Regions from separate parts of the Homo sapiens genome. Here region 2 is linked to region 1. Evidence: fine-mapped expression QTL. Tissue or cell type: prefrontal cortex. Region 1 holds a variant in brackets; the other region holds the start of a gene. All regions are shown on one strand. Distances are from middle to middle. Region 1 has its middle 24 kb from the start of DRC11. Region 2 holds the start of DRC11 (dynein regulatory complex subunit 11).

Region 1 (4,396 bases):
ACAACGTGTCATATGGGTTCCTAATCAAGTCATCCTCAGGTAAGACTGGCACTAGATGGGGTAAGCGGTGTTCATGCCTCAAACCTATCAATGGCTTCACTTCACTTAGGCAAAACCAGACCTCAACCTACCCACCATCTCCTCTTCACCTTTAAAGAATAATCAGCAAAGATGTGCTCATCCATCTGTCCACTCATCTATCCATTCGTCCACTCATCCACCCACTTACTCATCCATCCACTCACCCATCCACTTATCCATTTATCCATCCATTTATGCAACCCTGCATTTGCTTACCAGATACACATTGAGTACTATCTAGGCACAAATCTAGGTGATCATAATTAAGACCAGTCCCTACCATCACAGAACTTACATTACCAAAAGGAATTAGGCAGTAAACAGATCAAAAATATATATGACACAATTTCAGGTGATGAAGTTATAAGAAAGAAAAGTTAGCAAGAGTTGATGGGGGACATGGAAGAACTATTAAGTAGAGGATAATTATCAGTCCCTGATTATTTGTAATGACTCTACCGCCATAGGTACAGAGCACACCATATCTTCTCTAAGCTGTATCAGACTATTTAAGGTTGACAGGAAGAGATATGCCCAGATTACTTTTGTTAATGAGAATCATTCCTAAGTATGTGTTGCCAAAATGCCTTTCAAACTTTATTCCAGTTTATAATCTGACCACAGCATATAACTGAGTGGGTCTCCAGATAACTCACTGACTCCTGGGTGTTATCATTATTTCCAGTCATTGCAATTTATAGATCCAAAACAATTTTTAAAATTTAATTTGCATTTCTTTTATGACTTGCCCATTCATGCCCTCTGCCAATCTCTTGTAGTGTTTTCCACACCCTCTTCTTCCAGCCTTACCCTGGTGCTCAATAAGCCACCCAAACACAGGGGCACCTGCTAGTCACCCATTGGTGTGCTGTGACAGACACCTGCCACTCCCACCAGAGAGCTTTCTGAGAGGTAGTGCCACAGGGAGCAGCCACAGCCGGTGCTGGGGCAGATGGAAGTTAAAGACTTCAGCTTCCTTGCTCTGCAGGTGGAGTAACTCTGGCTGTCTCATCATCACTCCTCAGTGGGAAGGAGCCCCAGAAGCCACAGTGGAAACCTGCCTGAACCTGCACCCTTTGTTGGTTTCTTTTTCTGTCCTGTCACATTTTTCCCACCCTGATAGCAGTGCTTTCTGGGATTGTCTGCCAAATACTCTACTTGCACTCAATTTCTTGCCTTAGAGTCTACTTTGGGAACCCAGCCTGAGAGAGTGTAATGAGGACATTTACTAGATTGGACTCAAGGCCCACAGTTCTTCAACAGCAAAGAGAGAAGTGATAAAATACAGCAGCCCAGTTCAGGCACCACTCCCATGTGCTGCCAATAAGGAGGGACCATGGACTAATGCCCGAAAGGAAATCAGAGGTTGGCTTGTGGACCAGCAGGCCAAATGCACGGGCACTCTCACCTGCTGTGTGACCCTCTTCACAGGGCTGGCCTCACCCCAGGGTCTACCTTTGTGGAGCTGTATCTAACACACAGCTGCAGACATCTGCTTACCTCAGATGCAATGCCTTTGGGCACCTGGCCTGTGAGTGATGGTGAAAGAGAGGACCATTTTCCAGGTGATCAAGGCAGTATTTGCCTTGAGGTTTCCCAGCCTTTCATATGTAGTACTTAAGCTCCTTGGATCCCATTCATGACTGTTGTGTGGACGTAACTTCAGAGGGTTTAGGAAAGTGGGGAGATGGGAAGAAGAGGCTTTCAACTCCAAAGAAGGAAGACATGATAGTGAGGCAGCACCATAAGAAGCCACATGGGGTCTGAGCGTGCTGACAGGGTGACTCCAGGATCTCAGCCTGGGAGGCAGCTGGCTCGTCTACTGCGAATGCTTCCCTAGACCACCAGAGCTGTGGCACAGACACCTGCTCTCCACAGATGAAGGGAGCACCAAATTGTGCAACGAGGCCTTTTCTTTTCATGGTTCTATGGTTTTAAAAAAGTTT[A/G]TATATTGGTGGGGAATACGCGGGTGAATACAAATGTCAGGTAATTCCACACCCACCACAGCTCTCCCTGGATTTTCTGACAGTTGTGTCTCTCTTCTAAAACTTCCCATTGTCTCTTTCAGCTAGTATGCCCAGATCCGTGTCATATTCAGAACCTGTGTAGAGAACTAGAGAAAGGCAAACCCAATTTTACACAGTCTATTCTCTGAATTACATACGTGGAAGATTTGGAGATGTTACCATGTCTCAGAACCTATTCAGCTCTGACTTTCTGATTGTTTTACTGTTGCTTGAAAATCTGATATAAATATGTTCATGTTGCCAGTAATCTTCAAAATTAACTGTATCATGGCTGTATTAGGGCTGACACTACAATTTATTTCACTGTTCTCCTAATATTGAATGCCACTTCTTTACTGAAAATTAATTTGTGCAGATAAACTTTTTCTCTCTTGGGAGAAATTCTCAGAAGTAAGTAGAGGTCATAACATTCTAAATCATTTCCCTTGGGGTGAGCAGTAGAGGGCAGTTATGTCCTCTGATTACTCCTGGGAGTTAACATTTTCTCACTTATTTGTACTGATTCTTGTGAAGATGTTTACTCATAATCTGCCTATTCACATGCTGACTACTTCGTGTGTTTCTTATCAATCTGTGTGGCTCCTGATGTAATATGAATATTTTCTCTGGGCATTCTAATGTAACCTTTTCCTAGTTAAGCTATGAGTGCTAAGCCTGCCTGACTTTAGATCCTGAGAGCCATCTATGGATCCATCTCTATGCTGTGCACAACAGCAGAGCATCCTATGAAGTCCTGAAGCAAATCAAATTCATCATTTTTTGAATGAACTCAAATGTCTTTGTACACGCAACAGAGAAAGCTGGGAGACAGACCTCCTGGTACTGCTGTCTGTTCCACTGTCTTCTTAGATGAACATTTTGGAGCTTTCTAGAAAATTTCATTATTGATTTATAGCCCAGTTTTTATTTACTAATTATATCTTCTCTTACAGAAAAAAAATCATGATCTACCCAAGTTTAACTTGTAGGTTTAATAGTCAGTGTTGATGATCAGTAATTATTCTATATAATAGAAGTCCTACATTGAGAAGATGCTATTACAAAAAATGAAAGCTAAAAAGTTTTGAGAAATAATAGATGTCAATATATATATGAAATTTGGTATGAAACAGCATATAAAACAATAATTCCACTTTGTTTAGAAATGATTAGCAGTTTAAACTTGACATGTGACTATTTCCCCTTCATAGAGCCTTGAGTATTTCCTCAGTGAACAATATATTAGAACATATATGGTATTTTACCAAGTACATGTTTACTACCTAGGAAAAGCAACGGATTGAGAGGCCCAGGGTTTGGCATTTGAAATCTGACAAAAAGCAGAGAGAGAAGGATTGAACAGTGCTGCGCTGGGAAGCAGGACAGGGCCGGCAGACCCACAGAGAGAGTGAGGTCACGGGGGAGGCTGGCTCTCTCTGTTCCTGGCAGTTTTTCTGGAACAATGGCCCTTATGAGGTCTAGCTGATCTTGGATTCTGAATATGTCCTTGAGTCTTCTTAACATATCCTCTTTTTGTGTAAGTTAGTTGCATGGATTTCTTTTCCTTTTGCCAAGTGATTCCAGTGGTAATGCACTTTGCAAAGCTCTCTCAAATTCTCTCTTGTTCTGAGAGGTTCTAGACTGTAAAAGTCTTGAGGTCAGTCCTGGCTCTGCTACACTAGCTGTGTGACCTTGAGAAAGTTATATGACTTTGTTTTCATGTTTATACAATAATAAAGCTTGCCTCACTACTATAAAGTCTAAAGGAGAGATAGATATAGATATATAGATATATAGATACAGACATAGATATGAAAGGTGCTTTATAAACAAGAAAATGCTACTGATATGGTTTGGCTGTGTTTCCCCACCCAAATCCCATCTCGAATTGTAATCCCCCAGTGTTGAGGGAGGGACCTGGTGGGAGGTAAATGGATCACGGGGCAGTTTCCCCACATGCTGTTATGATAGTGAGTTCTCATGAGATTTGATGGTTTAAAAGTGGCAGTTTCCCCTGCGCTCTGTCTCTCCTGCCACCTTGTGAAGAAGGTGCCTGCTTCTCCTTCACCTTCCGCCATGATTGTAAGTTTCCTGAGGCCTCCCCAGCCATACAGAACTGTGAGTCAATTAAACATCTTTCCTTTATAAATTACCAGTCTCAGGCAGTTCTTTATAGCAGTGTGAAAATGGACTAATAGAGCTACATTCAGTTTTTTGATATTATTTTGTTCCCAAAACCATCCTGAGTAGTTTGTAGGAAAAATGCCATCACAGCTGTTTTCTGGATGAGGACTCTGGAGTTATGTGGG
Region 2 (4,396 bases), 24 kb after region 1:
GCCTGGTCTATTTCTTGGTTTTTCCAACTTATTTTCTGTATTGCACTACTTCTGTTTTTCTTTTGGTTTCCTTAGCTGTGTAATCTTCCTTCCTTTCTCATTCCATTGTTTTATATTTTCTCCCAGTTCTTATTTTATTACCTTAATGTTCTTATTAGCTTATTCTATAGCATGGAGCACAAGTAAAGATTTTTCTGTTTTGGCAGGGCGCGATGGCTCACGCCAGTAATCCCAGAATTTTGGGAGGCCGAGGCGGGCAGATCTCCTGAGGTCAGGAGTTCCAGACCAGCCTGACTAACATGGTGAAACCCTGTCTCTACTAAAAATACAAAAAATTAGCTGAGCATGGTGGTAGGCGCCTGTAATCCCAGCTACGTGGGAGGCTGAGGCAGGAGAATTGCTTGAACCCGGGAGGTGGAGGTTGCCGTGAGCCGAGATCACACACTGCACTCCAGCCTGGGTGACAGGGGGAGACTCCATCTCAAAACAAACAAACAAAAAAGATTTTTCTGCTTTTATTTATTTGGTTAGATTTTCTCCAGACTTTCTTTCACTTGTCTGGCCTATGTTATAATCCTTTCTTTTCTTCTACTTTTATGAAAGTCTTGGTTTTAGACAGTGGATATGCTGCTTCTTTCTGTCTTATTCCTATTTAACACGTGTTGCTCTTTGAAAATGTTCTGTTTGTTCAAATATAATGTGGGCGAATTCTCTTTGACTGTCTTCTCACTGTATCTGAGTTCCAGAGCTGAGATACTGCACTTTTCTCTGCTTTTCTGGAACCTGAGTACACATTTAGGATAAGGACTGCTCCCTTGAATCCACACAACTTCCAGGCTCTGTGCTCTCTTCTGAGATTTTGATAAGCTCCTTTACCACCATCCTCCCACTCTTGTCACGAGTGTGCCCTATTCCTGTGACAACATGCCCTTTGACTTTGAATCTTTGCCTCAATTCAATGTAGGGACCTAGAAAAAGGCAAGCCCTGGAGATTTCTCCTGTCCCTGCTCAGGTCCTGGGAGCGGTAGGGATTGACCTCCACTCAGGATGGTTTTATCTGGCCGGATTTCCCCAGGTGTTTCCTCGTTCGGCTCACCCTTTCATACCCCTTCTTTTCAGTGTGTGTATTCTTTGCATCAAAAAGCATTAATGAGAATTCTTGGTGTTGTGTCTACTTGGTCTCTGCCCCCTGAAGGGCTTTGGGAGGGTGGAGATGAGGCTGGACACCATTCTCCACGGCAAGCTGCTATTTCACTGAGTTTTTGAAGTTTACGGTACAAGGTTGTACTCAATTTCTCGTCTGAGAAATAATTTGCTCCATTATTTGAAGGCGGTGCGGAGGGCTGGCTTTTACTATGCTTTTGCGCATTTCATTAGTAATGGTGGGGGAGAGGTTTTGTGATCCTGATTATAATTTTTACCTGGATGTCCTCTCCACGCCTTTGACAGCATTAAACCTGGCGTTCCAATAGGAGCTGCAGGGTCTAAAATGTGCAAATAAACCTCAACAGTTACTAAAGTCGAAGAAAGAAGAGCAATGAAAGCCAACACTCATAGCGACTTACGGATAACTGTTAATAGCATCCACACTGCATTTTACATTTACAACGCACCCGCGCCTTAGTTCATACTCATTAAGTCTCCGAAGGGCGCGTCTGCCTAAGTCTTGGGTGCCCAGAATCTAAGTCTGCACTTGGCCCAGAATAGATGCCCAGTAAAGTTCTGAACGAACGACTGTTATACCCAGTTTACAGATGGGAAAACTGAAGACCACCATCATTAAGGGCCTTGCCCAAGGCCGCAGAGCTGACAGTGGATGAAAATGGGGCCAGCAGGAAAGCGGGAAGACGGCCTGGAGGACCACAGGCTAAGTGCTGGGGCCCGGAGCAGGCTCGCCAAGCGGCCGGGCCCCGCGACGGAGCGCTCGGACTCCGACCGGCTCCCACAGCTGCGCCCACCCAGGCCTCCCGCGGTGGCGCAGGCGCGGAATGCGGGGGGCGGGGGGGGGGAGGGGGCAGGCGGAAGGCAATGCGCAGGCGCGGCGTTTCCGTTGCTAGGGCCGCGTCGCGCCCACCTGAGTGGCCGAAGTGAGGTTCGCGAGTCTCTGGGTCGCGACGGGAAGGAGTGAAACACCTCTCTGCGCCTGCGCGCTCCGTGCCTGCGAAGCAAACCCGGCCTCACCTTTTCCTGCCCGAAGCAGAAGATTCTCGCAGTCCTGGTTTCTCCCTCCAGAAGACCCCCCACCCAAATCCTCTGTAGCTCCTGGTAGTGCCCTGACCCCTGCTGCCACCGTCCTTCAGAGAGCAACGGAAGAGCTTCCCGGAGGGCGAGGAAAAGAGGGAAAGTAGCCAGCAATGTCGAACGCGTAAGTGATGGGCTCCCAGCCACAGCCATGGAGTGGGCTTCCCCAAGCCAGAAGGTGGCTTGCTTTCTGCTTCTCTTATTTTCTTTTTTCTTTTCTTTTCTCCTCCCCTCTCAACTTCCCTCCTCTCCCCCACTTTTTTTCCTTTTAGGAAATTCAAATATGCCTCGGGATAGAGTATCTGCTTCTTGTGAGCAAGGAAAATCATACACTTAGATCTCCCCCTCCCCTACGCGTCCCACCACCCCATGGGGATGAGCTCCCAGTCTTCCGTATACCTGCCAAGCCCTTAGGGGCTATTGCTGAGAAGCACTATGCCATTTTGTCTGCTTTTTTTGTTAATCTTTCACGGTAACAAATACGGTGCTTTGTGGAAACACCTAGGTCCTGAAATTTAAGTCTAGAAAGATCTTGGGAAAGCATTATTGACATTTGCTTTTCACAGACTCGAGTGGCATTGGTACTGAAAGAAGTGTGTGCCTAGCACTGTGTCGTTTACACAGCACTTGCACAAAGTTACCTCATTTGGTCTTCGTAAGAATAATTTCCAACAGGTATTACAGCGCTGACCCTGTAGACACTGTTCTAACCGCTTCACAGCAACCCTGTAACGTAGGGGCTGTTAATATTGTTATTTCCATTTTACAGATGAGGGAACTTGGGGATGAAGAGGTGAAGTAGTTCACACAGCAAGTGAACAGTGCCAAGCCGGGCACTGTAGCTCCAGCCTGCACTGTTGCTATTACGTGCCCTGTATTCTAGGCAAGGAAATAAGAGCAGAGAGGTTAAAGGCTTGCCAGGGTTTGGAAATGGGGAAGATCAAGAGTTCTGTTTAAGACGTATTGAGTTGGAAGTGCCCATTGGACATCACGTGGAGATGAAATAGGCAATTAAAATATTCAGATCTTGGGTTCAGGAGCGAGACCCATGTCTGAAATATAAACTTGCTCACTGTCAGCCTGTGATGGTCTTTGTGAGACATAGAATGAATATTAATAAAGAGGTGTAAGGACTGATCCTGGGATCATCCACAGTAAGGCTGGGGGAAGAGGAGACCTGGCAAAGGAATCAAAGACATGATCCATGAGGAAGAAGCGAGTGGAAGAAATAATAGTGTTTCCAGGAGAAGTAACTTCTTTCTCCTCCATCAAGTGCTCCTGAGACAAGTTGGGGTAGAACTGAGAACTGACTGTTGATTTGGCAGTGTGGAGTTCACCAGTGACCTTGACAGGAGCTGATTCAGTGGTATGATGAGATAGAAAGACTTACTCAAGTGAATGTAGGGGGAGAGAAACTATAGATGGTGAGCATAGCTAACTCTTTAAAGGAGTTTTGCTGCAGAGGAAAGGAAATATGTTGGCAGCTAGAGGCAGAGGACATGGCTCCAAGACAGAAAACAATAGAATGTTTGTGTGTGGAAGGGAATGGCCCAGAATGATATAGGAGGAGGAGGGAGAAGTGGGTGACATCGTTGGTAGTGAGAGGACATGGGATCCAGGGGGTGCTGGCCTTAGGTAGAGGAACTCAGCACTTAACAATGGAACAGGTAGGAAGGCAGCATCAAGATGCTATTCAGTGGGTGGGTGCTCTGGAGGTGGCCTGGAACGATCATGGTAGATGGAAGATGATGGTGACTGAGGGGCAGTGGTGACAGCATCAGATGAAATGGGATTCAAAGCCTGGGAGTGTTGGGAGGAGGGAAGGCAAATGTCTGGAGGTGCAGTGAAGAGAAGGGGTCCCCTTGACCCAGCCCCACAGCCAGAGACAGAGGGCTCTGGGGGTAACAGGAGCCTCTACTGAGAGGGCTTCTGAGCAGAGACAGGCCTTCCGTAGAGCAAGAAGGCAGGGGGAGTATTTGGGGAAGAAGACAGCAAACTAGTTAAGATTGGAAGATTCAGAAGGTTTTATCTTGTGCAAAATAACTTGAAAAGAATTCCCATTGTGCAATATTTTGAGTTCCCACGGAAGTGCATATATTCAAGTGAATATTCAAGTGTTTCCCTCCCCTACCCACTCCGTTATAGGAAAACTGCC

What was found. PIP is the estimated chance that this variant, and not a neighbour inherited with it, causes the effect.
Region 2: it holds the start of DRC11, and the variant in region 1 is the best candidate, but not a certain one, in a credible set for the expression of DRC11 in prefrontal cortex (CommonMind, PIP 0.84).

The regions. Positions count from the first base shown.
Region 1 is chr2:236,528,875-236,533,270 of GRCh38, reverse strand. No RefSeq gene overlaps it. Among named protein-coding and RNA genes, the nearest start is that of DRC11, 24 kb to the right of the region's middle. The variant A/G (reference allele first, on the strand shown) is at 2,028.
Region 2 is chr2:236,505,226-236,509,621 of GRCh38, reverse strand. It overlaps DRC11 (dynein regulatory complex subunit 11), which reads left to right and starts at 2,146. Exons shown (of 19, transcript NM_024726.5): 1 at 2,146-2,365. The coding sequence starts at 2,355. RefSeq lists a silencer at 1,971-2,020.